4 linked regions of the Homo sapiens genome follow. The protein of the gene in region 1 interacts with the protein of each later gene in a biochemical or structural test. Each region holds a gene or a part of one and is shown in the gene's direction. Other genes may lie near its edges. The genes, in order: JAG1, CD46, NOTCH2 and NOTCH1.

Region 1 (7,025 bases):
TGGCTAACATGAAAACAAGGAGGCTTGCTCCCTCGCTGGCCAAGGAAAAGTGACCTAGAAAAGTGCGTCTGTCCGCTTTTGACACTTGGTCAGAGTCCTCAATGGAAAACGAGCGGAAATAGTGTGGGAGGGTAGGAGAGGCGATTGATTTGCATTTGCTGGTGCTCTTCTGTGGTTTCAGGCCCCACGGGTCACCAACCATGAAATAGACTCTCGGCTTTTCTCGAATGGGGGAAGACCGATGGGGCACCACTGAAAATGTGGTTCTTTTGAAGTTGGGACAAACGCATGTATCACTCATAAACAAGTCTCCACCCTGATGCCCCAGAAAGGCCTGCTGTGAAACATAAGATTTAATTCTCAAGAGAAATTGGAGTTTAGGTGTATTTGTTTTTCTGTATGTGGTTGGAGAAACGGCACAGTCCGTAACTTTCAAGAATGATTCCAGGCTGAGTAGAAACGTAACTGAAACACTTAAGTAGCTGAGCGAGTATTTAACTAGAGGGCACAGCTTCATTTAGTTTGGCAATTAACTATGTCTTTTAAAACTGATTTCCTTGAATGGGAAATAAATGAACTTAGTACAGAATTCAAGAGATAGCAAGAAAAGGATATATGGTTAAAAACAAAACAAAACTCCAAACCACCTTGGGCTCCCAACCCCTAGCAGGCACAATTACCATTTGCATGAGTCCTCCCAAATTTGCTGACGCTGGGTATCAGCAAAGGGTGCAGGGGTAGGTCAGTGTAGAAGGTCATGTAGTTCATGCTTTTTGTTTGGAATTATGACCCCTATCCAAGCAACTGTTCATGTTCTAGAGAGGACGAGGAGGAAACGATTTGGTCAGATATGAAATACAGTCCATGTTCTGGTGTGCATGTGAAAGGCTTTGTAGAGGTGGCCCTTCCTGTCATATATCATATCTGAGTATGTCCCACGTGGTGTCCCCTGCCCCGGCTCTGGTCTTGGGGTAGTTTTTCACCACTGGCTTCTAATTCTCATACTGTTGCTGCTCTAAGGGGCTTAACTTGCAGCAACTATCTGGATTAATGATTCTCAAATTGGGGGACCAAGTGATAAGAACCATTATTGTGGGAAGTAATTGGGCTTAACAGGAAATAATTTAGGAATTACCACTTATAAATCACTGAAACGGTTAATCTGTACCTCCCAAAATTAGTGCTAAATCCCAGTAGTGCCTGCTTATTAAAAATACATTAGTGTAATTACCACTACTCATCTCCAAAAGCTTTTTGGGAACTTCAGAACCCCAGTTAGCTGTATTGCTGCATCGGTGGCCCCAGAGTGAAATGAATCTAGAGAAACGTTAGGGGAAGAAATTGGGGTATCTGGCTTATTAGCCTCATATTTAAATTCCATTGATCCTATTAAAAGACTTGCTGAGATCAACTTTTTTTTTTTTTTTTTTTTTTTTTTTTTTTTTTTTTTTTTGGAAAATCCAATGAAACGTGATTCTTCTGTGTGAGGGATGCCAGCTTTGGCCCCCTTCATGCTTCAGGCCTGAATGACCAATTGCCACGATGCTAATCACAGAATGTAATTGACAGGCCCTTACTTTTATGCCTTTTGCTGTCTTTTCCAGTCCCTGAGCTTCTGTAGATATGGTGTGGGCACATGGAGGGCTTAAGGATGGGGTTCTGATTTGACCTGCCTCCTTTCTGCAGCCAGGATTTGCATCCTGCCCGTGTAGTCAGCATGTATACAAAGAAAGAGCATGTGTGTACGTATGTGCTCAGAGCAAGGGACTTTCTGCATGTGGAGAAAACGCCTTTTGCCCTAAGAAGTCTACCTCAAACCAAAGGGATGAAGTGATGTATCTGTGTTGCAACACTGGGCTTGGGGGAAAGTGAAGCTGTGCTTGCTTTGAAAGAGCTGTGCTAAGTATCTGCAGAATAGCTGCTCCAAAAATGGAATCTTTATTCCAGGTACTTGGTTTCTAATTTTTTTTTCTCTTGCAGGTGTAACCTTCTGTGTTTTCTTTCTCCTTGTTGTCTTGTTTCTTAGCAACTTATTCAAACCTCCAGTACTTATAGGAATTTGCAACCCACCAGTTCCACACCCGTAATTCTACAGGGACTTAAGATGTTTTTAGAAAACGGTGAAACTTTGGCGTGGAGGCTCTTGGGGGAGTTCAGTGGGTTAAAAGGAGAGTCAGCAGCAACTTACAGGCATGCAACCTCCCAGAAAATCAGCAATCTAAGTGCTGCTCAAAATCTTCACACCAAATAGTGGTGCCTTTGGGGACCTTTTAGATAGAAGACGTGGAAAGTTTAGCATGGAGAAAAAAGTTACTTAAAAAAAAAAAAACAGTGTCAAGGTAACAAGGAGCCTTCACAGTTCCTGATCTGAAAACAGGAATGTGAACCAGAGGCCTTGGCTGGATTCATATCACCCACTGGCCCCATTGTAGAAGGGCCAGAAGTTGGTCCCAATGTCCGGCTTTCAAGGTTAGTGACAATGTAAGAATGCATGATCTCTGGATGTGCATACAATTAGCGTTGTAATCCATAAATGCAAATACTCCTGCAAATTCTTCCATGGTAAACTTCTGTAAGGCATGTTGCTCTTCCACCTACCCCCATCCTTCAAGCCTAGGATCTAGGCTGCTGAGAGAAGTGACTCTTGGCTTCAGCTTTTAAATATATATATATCTCTCAAAACTTAATCTTTTCTTCCAACTGTTGGAAGATACATTGGGATGAATGGAAAGTGGTGATTCTAAAATGGTGGTGGAAATGGAGGAGGGTCCTGGGTTCAGAAAAATCCCACCTTTACTTTGGTGCATGGCACTGGGTGGCTGTGTTGTGACTTCTTTGCTGATTTCTGATTACCGCATGGACCACAGCAGCCCTGTGACTGCTGTTTTTTTTTTTTTTTTTTTTTTTTATGGTGCCAGTGACATCTACCATTGGTGCAGTGCGTGTGCTGGGAAGAAATTCCGCAAGGTGGCTCCCAGTAGTTAAAGGAGTACATAAATAGTCAAACATGCAGAGTCCTCTACCAGCTCAACCCAGTTTTTATGCACTTTTGGTAAATAAACAGAAAGGCTTCTTGTTCAGGCTTGCTCTGTGTGAACCAGACCGTTGTGCTTGGCTGGCTTCTTGGTATTCTATCTATTAACCTCGCCACCCTTTTGTAACTGGTGCATTTAATTATCAGTGGGATGCTTTTCAAACAGGTAAGGGTAATGATGGGAAAGGGGGTGGGGATGTCTCATTGAGAGTCACAAATCTGGATATGAGCTTTGGGGCCCCTTGGTGAGCCTTTGAGTGGGCTTTGATGAGAAAATCACCCTTTGTAACCAGATCGGACTCTATTGACATGTCAAGCCCTACAGACTTGATTGCTTTCTGTGCCTGAAGTCTTAGCCTAGATGCTATAGGATAGTTGTCCTTTCTTATCTCACTTTCCCAAAACCCACTCGCATTGTGTGCATGAGTACGTGTGCATGCGCCACACATGGACTCCCTGCAACCTTTTCTGCTTAATATGTTTTGTGACTGGAATATTTTATACTCTGGCCACCCAGACACAGGCAGGACAATAGAGTTGGCCGAATTGACTGAAATGAGGATTATGGAGAATAATAGGGCCTCTCCAAAAATAATGCTAACACAGGACAAGCGACAGGAAGCAACAGTTGAGTCAGCAGAGCTCAGGGCCCCTGACGAACCCTGGGAGCCGACTGACTGTGCACAATGGCCGCGTTGGCACGTCGGGCATTCCCAGGATGTGCGTGCCGCCGGCGGGCCTGCCTGTCGCAGCAGCCTGGGGTTTTGGACGCCGCACGCGTGCCGTTTGGATGGCGGTTTATTTGTGTCCGTCAGCTTGGCAGGAGGGGAGGCAGCCGCTTCTCAGGGCTTGGTTTGGCTGTCACTGTTGCCAGGAAAAGGAAGCTCCCGGCTGCCAACACAATTACCTTTGTTTCTTACATCCCCCCTTCTTAATGTGGCAATTAAGTGCTTACCGCTCTGCCCAGTGCCAAGGTAACCGCCATGGAGTGGGACAGGGCAGAGAACACAACCTTGGCACAGCAGCCTAAGTGTGGAGGGCGGGAGGAGGTGCAGGGGCCCCAGCCTTGCTGGGAACCTGGTGGCCCTTGGATGCCTTGGGGCTTTGATGCCAGGACTCTCCTCTAGGTAGAATTCCACAGAAATCTTCCAAAAAGCAATTCCGAAGGCTGACCATTCCTCTTTGATGCCACACCAGAATGGGAACCAGCTGCCAGGTTTCCAGATTTCCTTGGGCTTGGAGCTGGGAAGGGGCTGAAGTGACTCACTTTGCAAATCCAGACTAAAGATCTGTTTGCTACCCCTCCTTCCTGTGTGGCCTTCACAGTACTGTTCTGGAAAACATAAGGAAAGATGAAAGCCAGGTGACTCTTCGGCAGAGTCTTAGTTCTGTAGTCTGAAATCAAGAAAAACCCAGGTATTTGCTTTTGTTGTTGTTGTTTTGCTGTATAAACTTAAGTTTGAACACTTGCCTTTCCAAGCCCTCCTGGGATGGAGGACTCCGCCTCTACTGGGGGTCAGAGTTGCAGTGGCTGCTTGTATGTGACTTCGGCATAGTGGATTTGCTGCTCTGTGGCCTGGTCCCTGCTTTGATGTGGGGTGCATGATCTGGGATCTCAGTGCCTGGGTGTATGTTCAGGGATGTACAGAGGTCAAGTGTGGGCCTGGGAAAAATTAAAGTTCTCTAGCAACTAATAATCATTGTTAAATTATCTTGATTGCTGATCTATAGTGTGGGGATGGAGTGGGAGGTTGAGTGCCTCCTAATAGGAACCTTGGAGGGAATCCTTTTTCTCTGTAGGGCTGGGCAGGAGGAATCCTCCTGCCCCAGGAGACCCTAATCCCCTCCCTGAAACAGACAGGAAAAAAAGTCCAGGCTTTGTTGCCGTCACTGTAGCTCCCTGCCCTCACCCTGTCTCTGCCTCTGAGAAAGAAGGGCAGTTCATGGAAAATCACAGAGCCAGGCACGTAGGGCTGTGTGCAATTCTTTTCTCTCCAGGTGGGGTGATGTCGGTCAGCAACTTCTGAGGTTTTCCCAGTTCTGGCGAGGATGAGCCTGGTAGACTGCTTGGTCGTCCAAGTTCTTGTGCAAGACCTAAGGATGCTTTCCTCTTTGAGTATTAAACTGAGTTAGTACTGCCATGCCAGCTCAGTCCCGGCACCTTCCCTTGCAGTGGGGTTTGTGGGTATTATGTGTTTAGCGCTTGTGCAAGTCTGTCAAAACTCCTGGTATCAATGCATTTAATCAGAGGATTAATTACAACAATACTGTTGAAGTGGAGGACGTGGGCCTCAACGTGACCAGCAAATGAAGGGCTTAATTATACAGAATCAGCCACACATCTGGCCTCATTTTGACTGTGCTCTTACCTCAAATCAGTAGAGAAATATAATTTCTTGCTGCTCTTAGGGAAGAGTCCTGTAATTTGCAGGAAGTCCTAAGAAACTTAAAGAGGCAGTAAATAAGGTATAACTTTCGCTAATAAAATAGTAACAACAGCAATGAATTTGGACCTGTGGCCACTAACAGGAGAGGGCTGGGTATGTGCCCTGGCTTGCCCGGTTTTGCTTGCTTTTCTGAGCATTTTCCCACAGTTATCAGTGAACGAAATGGAATCCTACTCTGCTTTGAGTATGAAACATATTTCGGCTGAATTCCAAGGCAGGGTCTATCACAAGATATTTTTATATTCAGAGATGACCTGCTGTGTCACTCTGAGAGCGCTAAGCTGGCCTTGAGTTATGAATGAAACTCCCTTTTACCCTCCCTTTTTCTCTTTTTCCTTTATCTTATAGGTGCTTTCTCTTCTCTTGGCAGCAGTGTGCTTCTGGTGGCACAGCACGGTATTATTTAATCTATACACGCTTCTATTTCCTATGGCTTGGTTTCTGACACAGCAAAGCAGGGATTCATAACCTAGTTCATGTTCCTTGTCTACCCCACCTGCCTTGAGTACATTTCTTCAGTGCCAAGATAGCAGAAGCTTCATTTAAACGCTGGTGTTTTGTGAGACTGACCTTACTGTAAATTACGAAGGAAAATTTTAGAAAAGGAGGGAATTTGCTAATAGCTTAGGTTTGGCTGGGGGTGGGGAGGTGGAATTCTGAGATAAGCTTGGAAGATAAAAGGTGCCTTCAGTTTAACAGCTGGCATCTTGCCAGTATCCAGGGAATTTGTTTAGTTAGTAGACTCTGATTATTCTTGGAATGTTAGATCTTATTAACAGATAAGTTCATCAATAAATATAACCCATGGGTGTGCGGTTGTTTCTCCCTTTGTACTTTCTTCCCTGGGATCTGCCCCCAACTCCACCGCCCAAGTGAGGTTGACTTCTTTGTCTTGCAGAGTCACTTTGCATCTACCCCCTCCTGTTTCCTAGAGTTACCCGATACTTGTGGGAGCCAGGATGGTCTCACATAGACAGAGTTTTCAAAGGGGTTCTAAAAAGGAAAAGGGGGCCTCCCTAGAGACTGCCTCACCAGGGCCCAAAGTGTAACCTTAGCAATACCCCCTCGGTACAAATACCTGGTTAGGTTAGCTTAGAATAAATTCTTTGTGTGTGTGTGTGTGTGTGTGTGTGTGTGTGTGTGTGTTTCCTCATGCACTAGGGTCAGGGTCTGGAAAGTTTTGGGAAACTATATGCTAAATACTCTCATATCATATAGTGAGGTGGCATTTCCTGATCTCAACTTTGAGCTGCCTGCATGCATGTTGACTCCAGTGCGTCCCTGCCAGGTGAAAGGAGTCATTTGTCAACCTGGGAAGAGTGCTGACAAAGGAAGGGGAGTTGGTTTGGATTTAAACATCCAGGAACTCAATGCAACAACCAACAGAATTTTTATTTTGGCATTATGGTTTTGTTTGGTGGGGTATTCTGGGAGGCCAAGAATGTACGAGATTTTGGAAAGTCGACCCTGTTTCTGAATTGCTAAATTGTTTGTTTGTCTTGCAGAGGTCCTATACGTTGCTTGTGGAGGCGTGGGATTCCAGT
Region 2 (7,025 bases), on another chromosome or scaffold:
TGGAGCCCCTCATGGTCAAGGCTGCAGTGAGCCCTGATCATACTCCAGCTTGGATAACAGAGCAAGAGACCCTGTCTCAAAACAAAACAAAACACACACACATACACACACAAACAAACAAAAAAAGAAACAAAATAGGAAGCTGAAGAAGATAATGAAAGCGATTTGAAATAGAGGAACATAGAATTATGAAATGAATAGGGTGCAACATGGAAAATAACAAAACTAAGAATGAAGAGAAGGAAAAGCAAGGTTAAGTTTGAGGTTCATAAGGGTAAATCAAGACAGGTATGAAACCTAGAGAAAGTAAAAATGAGAAGTCACGATGCTAGGCAGAGAGAATACGTGAATTAAAATAAACATTCAATTTTTGGAGCAACTCACTCTCACAAGGAGAAGGTTTCGTAAGCAGACAGTGCTGTGCATGGGAGACCTGCCCTCTCAAAGGTAGTTGCCAAATGGTTCCAGATAGTTGAAGGAAACATGTATCAAATTTCAGGCCAGTCTCATTCCTCCAGAAGAGGAGCTGCTTTTTTGGACAAAACCCGCAATCTCCTGTTGTGCGTGGTCTCTTCTGCCTATTTTAGGTGTTTTCCTTATTTCCAGTGAAAGAAGCCAAGATCAGTAAGCACTTACACAGTAGCGTCTCAGTTTCCTTACTGGGCATACTACAATGCAAAGAGAGCAGTCCATATCTGGTCACCTGCCAGGATACCAGAAGACTGGGAGATAGGCAGCACAAGAAATGGCCTAATCTTCTTTCTCCATTGTGCTGTAGAATGATTATTTTCAATATGAAATTGATTACAATATATTCTTCACATTGTTTTGTGTTTGACAGCAGTGGATTTTGAATACCAAATTTTTTTTGAATAGCTACTCTGAGTGACATATTGTGCTGGGTGTTGTGGCCACATGGATGAATGGAGTTGGCCTTGTTAACTATTAAACACAAAAGCATGTGATAGTTACCTGAGAGATCCATGCAGGGGAGAGTCCAGGGGAAGGTGACTGATCACTGCTTCCCAGGGGGAGGCAGAAAATGCTTCCTGGAGGAGATGATGGGTGGATTAAGGAAGATGAGTTGAGCAGGAGTTGTAGCTACCAGCCAGGGAGGAAGGGTATTCAGAGCAGAGGAAGCAAGGTGAGCAAAGGCACCAAGATGTGACACTACTGGACTGCCAAGCTATTCAGTGTGGCAGAGTAGGGCAAAGGAGGCAAGAAAGAAGGAAGAGGATTAAATCACAGGGTGAGTAATTCTGAAAAGCAACAGACTCATCAGGAGTAAACACTCACCATCATAAATTCAGACTTTCACGTTATTACCTGTCCTTTTAGGGCAACTTGAGCCTTTTGTTTGACTTAGCACAACATGAATCCAAACTAGGGTTGTTTTGATTTTCCCAGGCACGGTAGCAGACAATTTCTTGAATACTTATTTGCAGATAGAGTTTGTCAGTGTCAGCATTTCTTGTGCACCCACAAGGTGAGTATAGTAGAAAAAGAAGAACATGGTTCTTGACCCCCAGGAACTTGCCTTTTAAGAGAAGACACCCTGAAGTGACAAGCTGTTATAAGTTAGTGTTTTAAACTATGGAAGAACAATCTGAGCAGAGTACTCTATACTGTAGAAGACTTCTTAGAGGAGAAGTTACTTTTGAAATGAATTTAGAAAAATGTGGGGAAAGATGCATCCATATATATTTTAAGATCAAAGACATTAATGCTGTCTCTTCAGTTTATTGTCGAATGTTTATTCCCAAACAAACCAAAAGCTAATAGGATGTTACTTAAAACATGCAAGTCCCATTTCCTCCACTGCTATGAGCACTCAGGTAAAAGCATGGAACAGTCATTTAAAATCTTGCCAAGGGCCTTTCTGTTTTTTCTGTACTACCTGCTGCCAGACCACAGTCCATGGCTGATGAAAGTGATATCAGTACTTCATCTTCATGTTCCTATTCTCTTATCCCTAGATGCCTGTGAGGAGCCACCAACATTTGAAGCTATGGAGCTCATTGGTAAACCAAAACCCTACTATGAGATTGGTGAACGAGTAGATTATAAGTGTAAAAAAGGATACTTCTATATACCTCCTCTTGCCACCCATACTATTTGTGATCGGAATCATACATGGCTACCTGTCTCAGATGACGCCTGTTATAGTAAGTAAACAAACCTCTTTTTTTTTTCTGCTTGCTCTAGAGATTTGCATACATTTTGGGGTACATATTCCACTACGGTGATGATGATTTTCTTCTTGTAAAATGAGGTTCAAGATAACAATGCATTTTTGCAAGCTTTGAGAAATCAAAATCTCCAAGAAATCATTTTCCTGGCAATAGATTGCCTGGGTGAATATGAATCTTAAGTTTGCCCTTATAATAAGTAAATAATGAAAATTATATTCCCACCCATTCAAAAGAGCACTGCAGAATTTTGATTTTGATTCAGATCTGTTTTATAACTGGATTGAAAACTATCAAAATTATTTTCTTTCAGGAGAAACATGTCCATATATACGGGATCCTTTAAATGGCCAAGCAGTCCCTGCAAATGGGACTTACGAGTTTGGTTATCAGATGCACTTTATTTGTAATGAGGGGTAAGTTGCTCCTTAGAGGAAATAAGGGAAGTGTTAGTAATTTTATTTTTGTTTTGCTTCTCTTCTTAAGCATTCCTGTAAACTTAATTTTGCTTTCTATGTGACAAGTTATACTTCTAGCCAAACAACTCTTGGATGTTTTATGGAGATAGGCAAGATATATAGTAAATAGAAAGTAATTGATATTTAAGGAAAGCAAAACTACTTGCTGTTTCTGACAATAAGTCTGTTGTAAGCATTAAGAATGTAGTAATCATGAGAATTTGTCCTTCACAACTGAGTGTCCCCTATTTAAATCTGCCAACTCTTAGAGTTGAAGTAGGGCTCACAAAAATGAGAAATAGAATTGCCAACTAAAGATACACTTGTATCCAGATGACTCTGTAAAGTGTTATCAGACCAAAACTGACGCGGTTAGCCTTTACCATCATGTTGATCAAAATCTCTCAGTTGAAAAACCTTATTTTTGAGACTGCTACAGTGTGAAGCATCTCAAGAGCAGGTACTGAGCCCTCGGTAATAGCCTTTGTTCTGTAGGGTTTTGAAGTTGTATATATTGGAGATACTAGACATTTAAGATAAATGTGCATTTATAGAGTAAATGTAAGTATTCTGCTATAACAGAATACTTGAGGCTAGGCATTTATAAAGAAAAGAAATGTATTTGGCTCATATTTCTGGAGGCTGGAGAGTTCAAGGGGATGGCAGTAGTGTCTGGCAAGGGCTTTTGTGCTGCATCATAACATGCTGGAAAGTGAAAGGGAAATTTAGCATGTGCAAAAAAGACAAAGCACAAGGGAGGGGGTTCTCGCTTTATAACAACGTGCTCTTATGGTAATGAATCCAAGCCTACAAGAATGAGAACTCATTCCCTGAAGAATTAATGAAGACCCTCTAGAAAGGCATTATACCTCTTAATGACCTAGTCATTTCTTAAAGGCCCCACCACCTCTCAATGCTGTTACACTGGCAATTAAATTTCAATATGAGTTTTGGTAGAGACAAACCAGATTCAAACAATAGCAGTAACACACCATAATATAGAAAAAGTAAGTGAGTCTTGGAGGAAAAATCAGCTGTGACTATGTAAGGCAACTGACAGTTTTTAAAATTTGGTCAAGTAGAAATATTGGAATATTCAGTTGACACATACTGCTTGCTAGGCACACCGAGGGATACCAAAACTTTAAGACAGTGACCTTCCTAAAAGAAGTTCTAACCTTATTGAGAAATAATATATACTGAGAGCAATAAAAGCAAAATACTAAATGAGAAATACCAAATAAGTAGAATTATTCATGATAATTACTCTAAGAGTCCAGAAGGAGGAGAGATTCCTGTGAATTTAAATCAGGGAAGATTTCATTGAGTATAGGGGTATACTTAATGAAAGTATTCTTATACTCAGTGAGCTATTCCTAGAAATACACTCTGTTCTAAATAATATTAATAGAAGCTAAAACTCATGTAGCACTATCTATGTGCCAAATGCTAACTTATCTAATCCCCTAAACAACCCCATGTACTGTTATCCCCTTTTAATCAATTAGGAAGCTGAGTGAAGGAACTTTAAGTGACTTACCCAAGCTCAAGAAACTAGATAAGTTGAGAAGCAGGGACTTGAATCTATCCATTCCAGCTCTAGGGCCTGTTCTCTCTACACAGTCCTTGTCCTTACTGTGCAAAGTGGTGTGAGAAAAGGCACAGAAATGAATGTGTAATGTGATTGCAGGAGGCAGCAAAGAGGCTGGGTGGAAAGGCACAGCAGATTTATTTAGACATCTTTGCTCTTGGCCAATATATATTCAAATGGGGAAACTCTATTTGATTAAATTGCAGATTTATTTAGCACTTTCGTTATATAGTATGTTGTTTAAGAAACCACCCCCTCAAACTACTGTAGTGTAGAAAAGAAACCATATAAAAAATTCCTTCATTATTATGTGTGTCTTATTAATTGCTATACAAAACAGTAACCCTTTCTTTTCTCATTTAGTTATTACTTAATTGGTGAAGAAATTCTATATTGTGAACTTAAAGGATCAGTAGCAATTTGGAGCGGTAAGCCCCCAATATGTGAAAGTAAGTAAATTCTTTTTTTTTAAATTTAGACCAGTAGTCCTCAAAGATTTTTGCCTCCTTTACACCCTTTACACTTTAAGATTAACAAAGATCCCAAAGAGGTTTCTTTTATGTGGGTTATATCTATTGGTATTTATCATATTGGAATTCAAACGGAGAGGTTTTTAAATAATTATTGATTCTTTTTGGTTTTGTTTGTTTTTCCTAAGACACGGTCTCAGGCTATTTCCCAGGCTGGGGTGCAGTGGCACAATCTCAGCTCATTGCAGCCTCAGCCTCTCCAGTAGCTGGGGCTTCAGGCATGTGCCACTATGCCTGGCTTTTTGTAATTTTTGAAGAGACGGGGTTTTGCCATGATGCCCAGGCTGGTCTTGAAATCCCATGCTCAAGCAGTCTGCCCCCGTGGGCCTCCCAAAGTGCTGGGATTACAAATGTGAGCCACCCCACCTGGCCTGATTAATTTGTAAGAATAAATGCAATACAAATTAACATATGTAACATAATTTTTATGAAAAATAATAATTTTCCAAATCAAAATAAAATTAGTGAGAATAGTGGCATTGTTCACATTTTTTGCATATCTCTTCAACATCTGGCTTAAAGCAAGATTGTATTTGGCCTGTTGTGTTATCACACAATATGTAGCCTTTGGAAAAATATCACTATATTCTTATTAGGATCAGAGTGAAAAAAGACAATAATATTTTGGTGGTATTGTGAATCACCAATTTAGAAAATGGATATATTTATAAATTGCAAAGGATTTCTTAACTAGCACCGAGTTAAGCATATTTTCTCATTAATTGTCAGCATTTCTTGTGATGACTAGAACAGAACTTAGCATGGCCTTCCAAATAAATACAGGCGTATTAGGCCGTTTTCGTATTGCTCTAAAGAAATACCTGAGACTGGGTAATTTATAAAGAAAAGAAGTTTAATTGGCTCATGTTTCTACAAGCTGTACAGGAAGCATGGTGCTGGCATCTGCTGGGGGTTTGGGTAGGCCTCGGGAAACTTAACAACCATTGGGAAAGACAGAAGGAGAGCAAGGTGTCTCACATGGCAGGAGCAGGAGGAGCAAGGTGGGGAGGACGGGAGGTGTTGCGCACTTTTAAATAACCAGATCTCCCAAGCACTCAGTATCACGAGAACAGCACCAAGGGGACGGTGCTAAACCATTCATGAGAAATCCACCCCCATGATTCAGACCCCTCCCACCAGGCCCCACCTCCAACATTGTGGACTACAATTTGACATGCGATTTGGTGGGGACACAGATCCAAACCATATCAATAGGTATTTACACTTTAAGAAAATGAGATTTGTTCTGAAAGTTAGTTACTACATTAATGGTTTGAATTTGGGATGATATATTTGCTCATAGAAACCTTCTTTTAAATCCATATTGAATTCACAAACAGCTTGTAGAAACCCTATATTGACAAATTTATTGAAGACACAGAAATTTTACTAATGCTGTCTTAATCTTTTACATTTCCTTTCCTCTTTTTCTTCATTTTTAAGAGGTTTTGTGTACACCACCTCCAAAAATAAAAAATGGAAAACACACCTTTAGTGAAGTAGAAGTATTTGAGTATCTTGATGCAGTAACTTATAGTTGTGATCCTGCACCTGGACCAGATCCATTTTCACTTATTGGAGAGAGCACGATTTATTGTGGTGACAATTCAGTGTGGAGTCGTGCTGCTCCAGAGTGTAAAGGTAGTGTTTCAATTTATTTCCTTCTTCATTTGTAAATACTATGGAAACATTTTGTAAATAGTTTCATCTACAGATAAACAAAGCAGGTGTATGTGCTTCCTCCTCCTGTATAATTGGTTTCTAATTTATTTTAATTCAGGTCAATTCAAGTCAAAAAATAGTTCTAGCTAGAGTTCCCTATTTCTCACCCCTACATGTTCTTGGCATTTCATTTTATACAGTGTGAACTACTGTGTACCTGCATGAGTTAGAAGTTTTTGTTTGAAAGAACCAAAAAAAAAAAATACACACTGGCTTAAAGAAAGTTTCATCTTGTATTACAAGAAATCTAAGAGTTCTGGCTATGGTAGTGGTAAACTGTGACAGACTAATCGTCTCACAAATAAAAATGATAAACTCTGGATAAAAAAAATTTTTTTTTTAAAGACCAAATGTTTAAGGCACTCTGGAGTGACCAAAAGTATGAAGACCATGTAGGGGACTTGCCCATTTAAAGAAAGAAATCACTGAATAACAGTGATTTAAAAGTATATACTCCCCAAGTACACATGAAACATTCTCCAAAGTAGACCATATTCTAGACAATAAGACAACTTTTAACAAACTTCAGAAAATT
Region 3 (7,025 bases), on another chromosome or scaffold:
CCATGATCATCAGGTAGCATAATATTGGGGAAGTAGGATTCCGGATAAAATATAGGATGTATGGAATATTTGAGACATACTAAAAATTACTTCTTGTTTATCTAAAATTCAACTGGACATCCTCTATTTTATTTGCTAAATCTGGCACACTATCTGGAAGATAGCTCCACTTTCCTGTCTCCGTCTTCTTATCTTCTGGCCTGTAGATGTCTCTGTCCTGGAGGAGAGGTCTAGCTGAGAGCTCAGGGTCAGAGTCTAGGGTTGCATCTAGGTGCTTTGCTGGTGGCCAAGCATGTCCCCAAGGTAGGGTCAGGCAAAGCAGAAGTTGCGTATAAATCTCCATGTTGGATTCTGAGGAACTGATCATGAGGTTTTCCCTCCTGGGTGAAAGAGAAAGCTCTTCCCCAAGTGAGAGACATTTTCTCTTAGTTGTCCTTTGCCCCACCCTGTGACAGGTCTCCTGTGTCATCTGGATGATGCATGCATCAGCAATCCTTGCCACAAGGGGGCACTGTGTGACACCAACCCCCTAAATGGGCAATATATTTGCACCTGCCCACAAGGCTACAAAGGGGCTGACTGCACAGAAGATGTGGATGAATGTGCCATGGGTGAGTAAGCAGAACTTTTTCTGTTCTGTGAAGTGTCTGTTGAGCTCAGCAAATGTTTAAACTGAAGCACATTTTACTGTAGAAGCAAATTACATACACCCAAACCTCAGATTACTCTTGCTACATGGCCAGTGTTTACAAGTGACCTTTCAGCATAGCCATAACCATATATTCCATTCTGGGGATTAACTGTATGAAACGTATGTACTTGATTCTTAATATAAAGCCCTACCTCAATGACAGTTTGGGCAGAAACTGCAATAGCAGAAATGCATAACAGTTGAGGATACTCCGCTTTTATTTCTTTTTAAATTAAGGAAAAAAAAATAGAAAATTGGGAATGATATTATTGAAGGCCTGGCCCTGATGCTATAACCATCAGATGCTCTTCTATTGTTCACATTTGTGGAAACTCAACTGCTTTGATCCCAGTAATTGGTACTTGTGTCTTTCAGCCAATAGCAATCCTTGTGAGCATGCAGGAAAATGTGTGAACACGGATGGCGCCTTCCACTGTGAGTGTCTGAAGGGTTATGCAGGACCTCGTTGTGAGATGGACATCAATGAGTGCCATTCAGACCCCTGCCAGAATGATGCTACCTGTCTGGATAAGATTGGAGGCTTCACATGTCTGTGCATGCCAGGTAAATGGGCCCATCAGCATGTTGGGTCTAGAGAGGAGGGACTGTTCTGAACTTCTCTTGGTAGAGCATTCAGTATACTATTGCAGTCTGATGAGCTCTGTCAGCATTTGATTTCCTTTGCTGACTGGGGACTAGAGGAAGTCAGGGTTCACAAGCAAACCTTCCTTACTCAAAGAGTAAGGCAGTGCTAGAATTCATCAAGCTATGTAGACCAAATTAAACAAGCCTGTTATATCAAAATCCACATGTAATAGAAAATTTCAAAAATGATTTACTGTAAGAATCCTTTAAATAGCAAGTTTTCCTGATACCTTCATGTAATTACAAATACCATACCATTCCATTTATATAAATAAATTTTATCCACAATTATATAGGAAGTTTCCATTTATCTAAAGTGCAGTACATGTTTAGTTGTATTCTGGAGCTCTTCTGCATAGACCATGTCTTTAATTTTGAGAGGATACAGCCAAATCCAGCTTGAAATGATGGCTAACATTGGCTGCTCTGCCTGATTAAGGCTGCCGGCCACTCCAGCCTTGAAAGGCACTGCTGACCTTGAACTGCACCCTGAAGGCAACAACAGCTCCAGCTCAGCTTGTCTTTAGGAACATAGAGTGGGGACATTTTGGGCCTTCCACAGTCCAGAAAGTATGGATTTATCACAGAAAATGTGGAGCAGTCCTTGTTTATATGCTAGGTCTTGCCAATGTCTTTTAATGTAATCCCTTCCCGCTTTTCACAGTGACATGGGTATTTCACAGTATGCCCTGTCCTGCTTGACACTTGGAGTGACTATTTCTCATCATGGCAGAGTTCCTTTTTTCTCTGCAGAAATGTGTGTACTCGCAAAGGATGTAGTTATCATTGCAAATTTGTGCTTCCTTGTCTGGAATACACCTTTCTCTCTCTTTAAGCCACTTGTGTGGTCTGTTTTGTTTAGGTTTCAAAGGTGTGCATTGTGAATTAGAAATAAATGAATGTCAGAGCAACCCTTGTGTGAACAATGGGCAGTGTGTGGATAAAGTCAATCGTTTCCAGTGCCTGTGTCCTCCTGGTAAGTGCCCACGACCTGGCCCTGTTTTCTCTTAAAGCACAAAGCCAACTGACCACAGGGAAGAGAGCAGGGAGAGAATGTGTGTGGGCTGTGCATGAGGAAATCATTAGAGTAAGTGCTTGGTGATAGGAGTGTGTGTGTACAGAAATAGAGAATTTGTTTTAGCTACTATATCTTACAAGTCCTTTGTGGCCAAAAGTCCAAGTCTATTCTTGAATGGCCCATGACCTCTTCGTCTGTGTATATATTTCAGAATGCTCATACCTCACAGAAGCCTTAGTTGTAGGCTATTCGGGATTTTATTTTTTTCCCATGGGTCATATTCTTGAAGGCCCTCTGTGAGACTGTTATTTTTAGACATTTCACCCATGAGTTCAGAAACAGACAACACATGCCAATTTTTCCAAGATTCTCTGTCTCTCCTTTTTTTTCCTCAAGCTATTTTTGAAGATATGCCAAATTGTCCTCCATAGATTGCATCTTACCCCATTGTATCTTCAGAGAGAAGGTTTCTGTTGCCTCTGAAGCTACAGTTACTTGTTTGAGGTTCCACCTATAAATTTCACTTCCTACATCCTTCATTTAGAAGTGAAGTCTGTCTGTGAAGAAGCAATGGTAGAGACACACCACAAGTGCCTCTGATTCCCTGAGTGTCACCTGGTTATTCCAGTTACCTGTTGGGGAGAATAATAAAGCATAGGCTTATTGACCCATTGGTATAAGCCCTGCTAGTAACCTAACATCATTCTCATGGTAAAGGGAGACACAAGATAATCCTTTGACTCATGTTACCACTGTCCCTTTTTGAGGTTTCACTGGGCCAGTTTGCCAGATTGATATTGATGACTGTTCCAGTACTCCGTGTCTGAATGGGGCAAAGTGTATCGATCACCCGAATGGCTATGAATGCCAGTGTGCCACAGGTAAGATTCTTCTCACTTTTCATCTCCTTGGTAGGTCCATCTGAACAAAATAGGGTGATTGTCCCTGTCCTCTGCTAGCTGCTGTGCCAGGCCAGTCCACTCCCAGAGGCTCCTCTGTGTTTAGGAAGAGCTGTTTCTAACAAATTTTTTGCTGCTCTCTTTTTCTGCAGCACCTGCCTCCTCCACCACAACAGTGGTCTGGCCCAGATATTTCCATTTGGTATCCATGTCTTTCTGGGACAGATTTTGGCAGCAGTAAGTTTCCAGCTGGCTAGATTGACTCATTTAGGAAAGAGAAGAAATCCAGTTGAAAGCTATTTTTCACTGGGGCTTCTCAGCAGGAGGCCTGGCTCTGTGTTTCTTGAAGCAAGTGACTGAAAGAAGGCCCAGAAATTTAAAGGCTGAATGTGTACAAGTGCAGGGGTATTCTGCATAAAAGACACCAAAATAGGATTGAGAGTCAAGTGTGTAAATGACAGGAGAGAGAGCTCTCACTGGGAAAGTTTGGGTCCTCTTTGCTGACTTCTGCAACTAGAGTCAAAAACGATCTGTGCACAAATATTCTGCATTTCTGGGTTTGTAATCACATTTTGTACTTGGGATTGGATTTCAGTAAGCCAGATGTTCCCTATTACACATTTCCTTTTACACAGGCAAATATTATACAGAAAGGCTAGAAATTATTAGAAGTGAACTTCTTTATTATCTGACTGCTTGAGAAAGAAGTTATTTATGTAATTCAAGACATTAATTTTAGAGAATGGAGTCTTAAAGATTAAAGGCATCATGCATATAATTTATTTCTGATCACAGAAAAGCAAATTTAATTGTGAAAATTAATACAAAAAGTTAATATTTTAATTATTAGACCTACTTAGTTTAGGACAACTCAGATGAGCCACTTTCTTTCTTTTTGCAAATAGTTAATGCTTGTCAGAGAATCCAGATTTTGTCTTCCCCTGGCCAGATTCTTCTTGTAGAGGATAAGTTTCAAAGAGATTAAAAACCTTTAGCTCAGGTTTAAAAGTGGGGGGAGGACTCCTGGAGTCTTTTAGGGAAAGATATAATGTTTGTCTATTTACACCTCGAAGAAAGGAAATCTTACTTGTCTCTTTTTCTTTTAAATTCTCATAACAGGTTCATTCATTTTATTCAACCAGTATTTATTTAAAACTACTATATATGCATACTACTCTCAGAGGAGTTGAGAGAAGTAAAATAAAGCTCTCTTACCTCCAAAGTCAGAATTGGGGACATAAGATACATGAAATCATTAACCTGTATATTGGACTTGGGAAGAAAGAAATACAAAGATAAATATATAAAGGAAAAATATTTTGAGCTGTTATACCTGAAGCCTAGTAAGAAATGAAGGTGCAGTTAAAGCATCTCTGCAATGAAATTATTGATCAGTTGCGAAGGTATTTCAATTCTAAAATTTGATTTGGAAATCTTTATTTTAAGCACCTCTCTCCAGGCATACTTTCTAAATCAATGCAGATCGTCGTTTTCTACTGCTCAAGACCTGCAGTATTAATTGACCACACATCGAATGTGTAGAGTAAATGGATGTAGCTACACTTGTGTTCTGGTGTGGAATATCTGCCTTGGTCTTTGAGAATCCTTGATAAAATTCTTTCCAAAGGTTTCACTGGTGTGTTGTGTGAGGAGAACATTGACAACTGTGACCCCGATCCTTGCCACCATGGTCAGTGTCAGGATGGTATTGATTCCTACACCTGCATCTGCAATCCCGGGTACATGGGCGCCATCTGCAGTGACCAGATTGATGAATGTTACAGCAGCCCTTGCCTGAACGATGGTCGCTGCATTGACCTGGTCAATGGCTACCAGTGCAACTGCCAGCCAGGCACGTCAGGTAAGCCCACTCTGTTTATGTTTGGTATGGGGTTTTCACTGTTTCTCAAATCTGTTTACACAGATGTTTCAGACTGTTGGCATATGCTCAGATACCTAAAAAACAGTCCTGATTCTGAGAAGCACAGCCAAAGCCACAAACATAAATGTCTCAAGGCAAATGGCCCTAGCCAGTGGAGAAGTCAGAGACAATAGCTCTGCCAATCTGATGATTTTGTGTGTGTGTTTGTGTGTGTTTTGTTAAATAGAGGCATACCACTTCAAAAATTAAAATTAATGATTTAAAATTGAAAACCCTCTTTTTTGTGGCTATATTATCTTTTTTTCTTTAAGTTCCACCCCACCCAGATTAATAAATTCAGTCCTTCCTTCCTTCCTTCCTTCCTTCCTTCCTACCTACCTTCCTTCTTCCCTTCTTCCCTTCCTTTAATGTATTTTCTCTTTCACAGTTCAGTCTCTTTATTGTGACATGTTTCTTCAGTCACTTGTCTCTGGTGGGGCCTTAGCCATCTTGGGGGATTCTAAGGAAGAGGAGATACCTTACAACACACCACAGTAACTAAAGTAGAACGCAGAGCTGTCATTTCCTATCCTCGGAGTTCATCATTGTTCTCTGACCTTGGTTGAATGACTCCTTGTTGGTCGTGAGGACATGCTGCTCCTTTCTGGGGGGATGTGGAATTATTTTCTCAGGCAGCAGCATCTCACAGGTTTGGATGGTTCTGTTTTACTTATTAGATGAATGATTATGGTCACAACTATGGTTAGTGGACAGAGATGTACTATGTTCCAGATCAAAGGAAAATGTATTAGTGGAAGATTAACCAATGTGTGCCTTTGTTAGAAGGAAACCTGCCAATATAAAGGAGTGATTTATTGAGAACTCATTCTGGATGTAAGGAAAATGACCTATGTAGAGAGCAGAGGTGGAGAGGGTAGTTAGCTACCCTCATTTTCTTTTACTGTTTCCAAATCCATTTCTTCAAATTTGTCAAAGGCTCTGGTCTTTACCCAAGGCTTCATACATGCCAAGTTTGAAAACAAAGTCCTTTTTGAATTGCTCAAGCATACGAAAAACATCCCATGCCGTCACAGCTGAAAATGCCTTTCCCTCCCCACATTTAGATAACTCACTAAAAGGGCTGAATAGATCTTTGTGAAAACTTCCAAAAGCAATTTGCTTCCGGGCTGTTCCTCAGACATGAGAAATTATAGTAGGAAAAGAAATTTGAGAGATTTACAAGCAATTGACTGGATGTCTTTAGAATCGAGGGGCTTTAGACTTTGCTATCATTCCCATCATAATAAACATACTGGAAACCTGGGTGAGTGGTGGGTTGGCAAGCACTTTGTTTTCTCTGGCATTATATCATTATACCAGGATATATCAGGTGTTTTCTGGGGAGGACAGAGAGGGTATGGTATAAGTAGCTGTCACTGAGAAGGTGAGAAGTCAATATGAGTGATCTGTAGGCAGCATGGAAAGGAAGGCCCGGAATCTGTCAGAACCTGCCAAAGATGTTCCTGCAGTTATTTGGAGAATTAAAGCAAGCAACGGTCAGACAACATTAAAAAAATGTTGATCTGTAATGGGTGGAGAAAGACCTGGCATGTATCAGGGACCTGGGTGGAAAATCCATTAAAAGAGGCATTATGAATAGAGTCTGAAGTTCTAGAGTAAGAATTCCTGTTCCACTTATATGGCCTAAGTTGGTAGTTTGGTGTTTGGATAGGGGAGTGGATGGAAGAAATATTTTACAGTTTGTCAGCTAAAATTGTGGTAGTCACTCACTGGGTACTTAAAGTGAGATATACTACCCAGAGTTACCTTCAGTGCGTTCTCTCATCTGTGCTTTTATGATAGTAAAGTTTTAAGTAAGTTTCTTTGTGTTTCAAGTAACAGACCAACTTG
Region 4 (7,025 bases), on another chromosome or scaffold:
CGCTGCCAGGCGGGCTACACAGGCAGCTACTGTGAGGACCTGGTGGACGAGTGCTCACCCAGCCCCTGCCAGAACGGGGCCACCTGCACGGACTACCTGGGCGGCTACTCCTGCAAGGTGGGGGTCCCTCCTAGGGTAAGGGTTGTGGCCGGCACGAGTGTTGCCACACACCAGGCCCTGGCTGGGAGCTGGCCCAGTGGAGAAAACTGAACCTGATAGGCCCATGCACTGTTCAGTCTCATTAGGGGAGGGCTGGGGTAATCAGGGTAGACTGCCTGGAAGAGGTGGCCTGTGGAAAGCCTGAAGGAGGGTACCTATACTGAGAAGTGGGATGGGGTTTTCCCTTCCCCTAGATTGTGTCTGGGCTTGGCCAACACCTACCCTGAGGCCCTCACCTCTATCCTATGGGACGGGGTCCACCCACCCCCAACAGGCAGTGACTCCGGTCACCGAGGCCCCGCCAGGGTCTGTTGGGCTGGGTCTCTCTCCAGGTCTGACAGGAGCGAGGGGCCCGTGGCTTCGCTGGACCTGAGGGCAGCTCATGTGGCCCTGTCAGCCCTCACAGTGGGGTGTGGGAGCACTGCATCCTGGCGCCGGCTGAGCCGAAGGGCCCCTCGTTCTGTCGCCTGCACAGTGCGTGGCCGGCTACCACGGGGTGAACTGCTCTGAGGAGATCGACGAGTGCCTCTCCCACCCCTGCCAGAACGGGGGCACCTGCCTCGACCTCCCCAACACCTACAAGTGCTCCTGCCCACGGGGCACTCAGGGTAAGGGCCGCTGCACGGAGGGCTGGTGTTGGCCATCCATGGCCAGGGCAGGGGCAGGGCAGGCACCCCGGGACCGGCCAGAGGCATCCAGGAACCAGCCAGAAACTCCCATTTTCCTGTGTGAGGCCAAGGCCGACTCACAGCTGCCCAGGGAAAGGGCCCAGAGCGGGGGTCCCAGTGGGAAGGGCGTCTCCACGGCACCCTTGACACCTGCCTCTCCCGAGTGTCCGTGCAGCCCCAGACCTGAGCGCTCGTCTTCCGGGACGGACACGCGGCACGGCAGGGCCGGGGTGTGGCGGGCTTGGGCCACTGACGAAACCTGGCCCCGCAGGTGTGCACTGTGAGATCAACGTGGACGACTGCAATCCCCCCGTTGACCCCGTGTCCCGGAGCCCCAAGTGCTTTAACAACGGCACCTGCGTGGACCAGGTGGGCGGCTACAGCTGCACCTGCCCGCCGGGCTTCGTGGGTGAGCGCTGTGAGGGGGATGTCAACGAGTGCCTGTCCAATCCCTGCGACGCCCGTGGCACCCAGAACTGCGTGCAGCGCGTCAATGACTTCCACTGCGAGTGCCGTGCTGGTCACACCGGTGGGTGCCGCGCCCAGGCGGGTGGGGCGTGTGGGGCAGCAGGGTGAGCCTCTCACTGCCCTGCTCTTACCCCTAGGGCGCCGCTGCGAGTCCGTCATCAATGGCTGCAAAGGCAAGCCCTGCAAGAATGGGGGCACCTGCGCCGTGGCCTCCAACACCGCCCGCGGGTTCATCTGCAAGTGCCCTGCGGTAGGTGCAGGGGTGCAGGGAGGCAGGGGCCCGCCAGGGGAGACACCTGGAGAGGTCCACGTGGGGGCCTCGGGGCGCAGACCGGGCAGTGATCCTCCCGGCCTTCATCCTCCTCCTCACCCTGATGTCTTTTTTTTTTTTTTAGTTTCAATAAATGATTTTAGAGACATTTTAGATTTATAGAAAAATGGAGCAGGAAGTAGACTCCCTGGGGTGGCTGTCCCCTGCACGCAGTTCCCCTGGTTAGCAGCTTGCATCAATTTCACTCTGGATTTCAGTGATACATTGTTACCAACAGCAGCCCTTCCTGTACCTGGGGCTTGCCCTTGGCTTTGTGGTTGTGGGTTTGGGCTGAGGTATGACATGCCTGCCCACCCTCGCAGGATCACGGCAGAGAGTCCCTGCCCTAAAGTCCTCAGCACTCCACCAGTTTACCCCTTCCTCCATCTCCCGACCCCCTGGCACCCCCGATCTTTCTCTGTTGGTAGAATGTGTGTAAAGGGTTTTGCTGCTGGGGGCAAGGTTGCAGGCCGCCTCCCAGGTTAGAGGAGAGCGGTGGCACTGCTGGCCGAGGGCTGGGTGTGAGGTGGCGGGGGGGCGGGGGGTGGCCCACCCCGACACCGTCCTGTCTTCCCTCTCGGGCAGGGCTTCGAGGGCGCCACGTGTGAGAATGACGCTCGTACCTGCGGCAGCCTGCGCTGCCTCAACGGCGGCACATGCATCTCCGGCCCGCGCAGCCCCACCTGCCTGTGCCTGGGCCCCTTCACGGGCCCCGAATGCCAGTTCCCGGCCAGCAGCCCCTGCCTGGGCGGCAACCCCTGCTACAACCAGGGGACCTGTGAGCCCACATCCGAGAGCCCCTTCTACCGTTGCCTGTGCCCCGCCAAATTCAACGGGCTCTTGTGCCACATCCTGGACTACAGCTTCGGGGGTGGGGCCGGGCGCGACATCCCCCCGCCGCTGATCGAGGAGGCGTGCGAGCTGCCCGAGTGCCAGGAGGACGCGGGCAACAAGGTCTGCAGCCTGCAGTGCAACAACCACGCGTGCGGCTGGGACGGCGGTGACTGCTCCCTCAACTTCAATGACCCCTGGAAGAACTGCACGCAGTCTCTGCAGTGCTGGAAGTACTTCAGTGACGGCCACTGTGACAGCCAGTGCAACTCAGCCGGCTGCCTCTTCGACGGCTTTGACTGCCAGCGTGCGGAAGGCCAGTGCAAGTAAGGCTGCGGGGCTCATGGGGCTGAGGGAGGACCTGAACTTGGATGTGGCCTGGCTTGGGCCCGGAGGCCAGCATGCAGTTCTAAGGCTCTGCTCAGGGGGTGCAGGGACGTCCCCCGCGGCTGGCCAGTGGGCTGGAGGCACCGGACGGCGGGTGCGAGGCCCCCCGAGGAAGGCGGCCTGAGCGTGTCCCGCCCCCCACAGCCCCCTGTACGACCAGTACTGCAAGGACCACTTCAGCGACGGGCACTGCGACCAGGGCTGCAACAGCGCGGAGTGCGAGTGGGACGGGCTGGACTGTGCGGAGCATGTACCCGAGAGGCTGGCGGCCGGCACGCTGGTGGTGGTGGTGCTGATGCCGCCGGAGCAGCTGCGCAACAGCTCCTTCCACTTCCTGCGGGAGCTCAGCCGCGTGCTGCACACCAACGTGGTCTTCAAGCGTGACGCACACGGCCAGCAGATGATCTTCCCCTACTACGGCCGCGAGGAGGAGCTGCGCAAGCACCCCATCAAGCGTGCCGCCGAGGGCTGGGCCGCACCTGACGCCCTGCTGGGCCAGGTGAAGGCCTCGCTGCTCCCTGGTGGCAGCGAGGGTGGGCGGCGGCGGAGGGAGCTGGACCCCATGGACGTCCGCGGGTGAGTGAGACCCGGCGCCCACGGTCAATCCCCGCAACTCTCCTGGGCCCTCCCCGACGGCCTCCCTGCCCCTCACGGCCGGCGCCATGGCAAGCAGTACTCTCCCCACTTTATGGTAAAAGAGACGGAGGTTCCGAGAGGACCTGGGACTTCAGGGCCTGCGCAGGCAAGGAGTAGAGGCAGCATTCCAGCTCAGGGCCCTGACCCCACAGCCACACCCTTTTCCTGGGCCACTGCCTTCCCCTGGACAGGCGGCACTCCTGTGCCCAGTAGGTGATTTTGAGATTGAGCTGTGCCTTAGGCACTGGATACTACACTGATTAAAACTCAGCCCTCTGCCAGGCGAGGAGGCTCACACCTGTAATCCCAGCACTTTGGGAGGCTGAGGCAGGCGGAGCCCTTGAGCCCAGGAGTTCGAGACCAGTCTGGGCAACATAGGGAGACCTTGTCTCTGTTTTTTTTAAAAAAGTATTAAAAGAAGTAAAAAACAAAACACTCAGCTCTCCAGGGGTTCCCACAGGGCTGAACAGCCCCACCCCAGACAAGAATGCCGCTTGGTCATGGCGTCTGCCTGGCTTGGGCTGGAGAGGAGGCAGGTGGAGGTCCTGGGAGGGGGCATTGCTGGGCCTTGCAGTTGGAGGAGGAGCTGGTGGGGGTGGGGGGTCCCACGGTGGGAGAACACAGGCAGGAGCAGCTTGAGTGCAGGGGGCACCCCACAAGGCTCCCGCCCATGCCTACTCGATCTGGGGCAGCTGGACCCAGGAGCCAGGTTGGTTGTGCCCTTCGTGTGCCTGACCCTGGTGGGTTTGCCTGTCAGTTCTGCTGGCTTGGAGCAATCCTGGAGGTCAGAAGCATCATCTCACAGGCTGGATGGGATCCTGCTCACGGGAACCCAGTCCTGGGGAGCAGAGCTCACCCCCAGCCAGCCTCACCACACAGCCCACCACCGCTGCACCCACCCCCACCTCACGCCTGTGCTTCCTGCAGGGCCTGGGGATGGCTCCTGGGGGAGGACTGGGCTCCTGGCACATACTCTGTCCTGAGATGAGGAAACGTGTCTGTGGCACCAGCAGGAGCCAGAGAGGGTGTCAGGGCGGGCCAGGGAGAGCGCGTTGGTGGGTATCTGGGATGAGCCGTGATCAGCACTGGCCGGAGTCGGGGGGCTGGCACCAGTCCCCTGCAGGGTAGCTGCTGTCAGACCTGGCTTCCCACCACCCCAGGCTGCCTCACCATGTCCTGACTGTGGCGTCATGGGCCTCAGTGTCCTGCGGCAGCATCCCTGGCCGGTGGGCGGGGGAGGAGGAAGCCTCGGGTCCCAGCCCCTCTCTGATTGTCCGCCCAGCTCCATCGTCTACCTGGAGATTGACAACCGGCAGTGTGTGCAGGCCTCCTCGCAGTGCTTCCAGAGTGCCACCGACGTGGCCGCATTCCTGGGAGCGCTCGCCTCGCTGGGCAGCCTCAACATCCCCTACAAGATCGAGGCCGTGCAGAGTAAGTGTGGCCCCATCCCGGGAACAGGCTCTGCCTGCAGGGGGTGCCATCCCCCCGTGCCCCAGACACGCTGGCTGTTTGTGCCAGTTGCTACCCACGGGTGTGAGCGTTGCCGTCCGAGTTGGGGTAGGGCTTTTCTGGAATTTTCTGAATGGCACTCCGCCCCCACCTGCGGCGGTCACAGCTGCCGGTGGAGCCACCTGGGAACGAGTCCAGCCACGGGAAAGTGGGTGCCTGCTTCTCTCCCCACCCTTTCCTCCTGAATTTTCTTTGTTGGGTATTATTTCAAAATCATTACGGCTTTTTTTAAAGAAAAAAAAAGAGAGAGAGAGAAGAATTGATCGGTGTCATGTGAAGTGTTGAAGTTTGTATCTTGAAAATCCCTCTAAATCCTTTGTCTTAACAGCTCAGTGCGAGTGCAGCGATTTGAAGTTGACTAATCCTCCTTCCTTAAAGGAGAAAAAAGTAAAAGCCGTCTCCAGATAGAGTCGGCTGGTGCAGGAGAGAATTTAGCGATAGTTTGCAATTCTGATTAATCGCGTAGAAAATGACCTTATTTTGGAGGGCGGGATGGAGGAGAGTGGGTGAGGAGGCGCCCGGACGCGGAGCCAGTCCGCCGCCCCCCGGCCACCAGCCTGCTGCGTAGCCGCTGCCTGATGTCCGGGCACCTGCCCCTGGCCCCCGTGCCCGCAGGTGAGACCGTGGAGCCGCCCCCGCCGGCGCAGCTGCACTTCATGTACGTGGCGGCGGCCGCCTTTGTGCTTCTGTTCTTCGTGGGCTGCGGGGTGCTGCTGTCCCGCAAGCGCCGGCGGCAGCATGGCCAGCTCTGGTTCCCTGAGGGCTTCAAAGTGTCTGAGGCCAGCAAGAAGAAGCGGCGGGAGCCCCTCGGCGAGGACTCCGTGGGCCTCAAGTGAGCGGACGCCGCCCCTGCTTCTGGGTCCCCGGTGGGAGGTGGGACCTGGCCGAGCATCCTCACCGGGAGTCTGCCCCTCCCGACCCAGGGCCCACCTCCCACGCCAGGCCCGGGCCAGGGGTCTCTGGGGGCTTCCTAGGGAGCTCGCTCAGCCTCACTTCTCGACCCCTCACCCCCCAGGCCCCTGAAGAACGCTTCAGACGGTGCCCTCATGGACGACAACCAGAATGAGTGGGGGGACGAGGACCTGGAGACCAAGAAGTTCCGGGTGAGTCGCGAGGCTCCCGGGCTCCTGGGCTCCCGGGCACCTGCTGCCGGGCTGCCCTGACAGGCTCTGCTCACTCCCTCTATGTAGTTCGAGGAGCCCGTGGTTCTGCCTGACCTGGACGACCAGACAGACCACCGGCAGTGGACTCAGCAGCACCTGGATGCCGCTGACCTGCGCATGTCTGCCATGGCCCCCACACCGCCCCAGGGTGAGGTTGACGCCGACTGCATGGACGTCAATGTCCGCGGGCCTGGTAAGGGTGCCAGCAGCCAGGGCTTCCCTAGCCCCGTGGCCCACCTGCCTCTCTCCCCTAAGCCCCGAGGCTGGGGTACAGTTGATACTCTGGAAACTTAGAATTGGGGGTGAGAGCTTTCATCCTTGGGGTGTTTCCCATTCAGAGTAGACGTGGGGGGGTCCTGGAGTCCTCCTGTTCTTCCACCAACCCCTTCCTGGGGTGATACCGCAGGGCCACTCTGTCCCTGTAAATTACTCTTTTCTGAAACCTTCTTGAGACATGGAAAGCGTTGATTTTCTTTTTCTTTTTTTTTTTCTTTTTTTTTTGTTTTTGAGATGGAGTCTCGCTCCGTCACCCAGGCTGGAGTGCAGTGGCACGATCTCGGCTCCCTGCAACCTCCACCTCTCGGGTTCAAGCAATTCTCCTGCCTCAGCCTCCCCAGTAGCTGGGACTACAGGCGCCTGCCACCACACCTGGCTAATTTTTGTATTTTTAGCAGCGATGGGGTTTCACCATGTTGGCCAGGCTGGTCTCGAACTCCTGACCTCAGGTGATCCGCCCACCTCGGCCTCCCCCAGTGCTAGGATGACAGCGTGAGCCTCCGCATCCTGCTGAAGCATTAATTTTCTAACTGCATGCTTCTGGGGTCCTCTTTTTCCTGGGTGGATTTTGGGTGCCAGGTCTTGGGCAGGTCAGGAAGCAGTTGCCCGCCAGGAGTT

The links.
Region 2: the proteins of JAG1 (region 1) and CD46 form a complex in vitro, tested with the Homo sapiens proteins (2 studies listed by IntAct, with this or other methods).
Region 3: the proteins of JAG1 (region 1) and NOTCH2 form a complex in vitro, tested with the Homo sapiens proteins (2 studies listed by BioGRID).
Region 4: the proteins of JAG1 (region 1) and NOTCH1 form a complex in vitro, tested with the Homo sapiens proteins (3 studies listed by BioGRID and IntAct, with this or other methods).

Annotation. Positions count from the first base shown.
Region 1 is NC_000020.11:10,663,976-10,671,000, reverse strand, and holds part of JAG1 (protein jagged-1 precursor), read left to right. Parts: intron 1-6,986; coding exon 6,987-7,025. UniProt on the Homo sapiens protein: Ligand for multiple Notch receptors and involved in the mediation of Notch signaling. May be involved in cell-fate decisions during hematopoiesis. Seems to be involved in early and late stages of mammalian cardiovascular development.
Region 2 is NC_000001.11:207,755,038-207,762,062, forward strand, and holds part of CD46 (membrane cofactor protein isoform 3 precursor), read left to right. Parts: intron 1-1,976; coding exon 1,977-2,165; intron 2,166-2,502; coding exon 2,503-2,605; intron 2,606-4,601; coding exon 4,602-4,687; intron 4,688-6,211; coding exon 6,212-6,409; intron 6,410-7,025. UniProt on the Homo sapiens protein: Acts as a cofactor for complement factor I, a serine protease which protects autologous cells against complement-mediated injury by cleaving C3b and C4b deposited on host tissue.
Region 3 is NC_000001.11:119,961,663-119,968,687, reverse strand, and holds part of NOTCH2 (neurogenic locus notch homolog protein 2 isoform 1 preproprotein), read left to right. Parts: intron 1-455; coding exon 456-611; intron 612-1,066; coding exon 1,067-1,255; intron 1,256-2,198; coding exon 2,199-2,312; intron 2,313-3,121; coding exon 3,122-3,235; intron 3,236-4,880; coding exon 4,881-5,114; intron 5,115-7,025. UniProt on the Homo sapiens protein: Functions as a receptor for membrane-bound ligands Jagged-1 (JAG1), Jagged-2 (JAG2) and Delta-1 (DLL1) to regulate cell-fate determination.
Region 4 is NC_000009.12:136,501,047-136,508,071, reverse strand, and holds part of NOTCH1 (neurogenic locus notch homolog protein 1 preproprotein), read left to right. Parts: coding exon 1-117; intron 118-634; coding exon 635-767; intron 768-1,098; coding exon 1,099-1,356; intron 1,357-1,432; coding exon 1,433-1,545; intron 1,546-2,190; coding exon 2,191-2,762; intron 2,763-2,967; coding exon 2,968-3,399; intron 3,400-4,741; coding exon 4,742-4,890; intron 4,891-5,583; coding exon 5,584-5,800; intron 5,801-5,983; coding exon 5,984-6,071; intron 6,072-6,158; coding exon 6,159-6,324; intron 6,325-7,025. UniProt on the Homo sapiens protein: Functions as a receptor for membrane-bound ligands Jagged-1 (JAG1), Jagged-2 (JAG2) and Delta-1 (DLL1) to regulate cell-fate determination.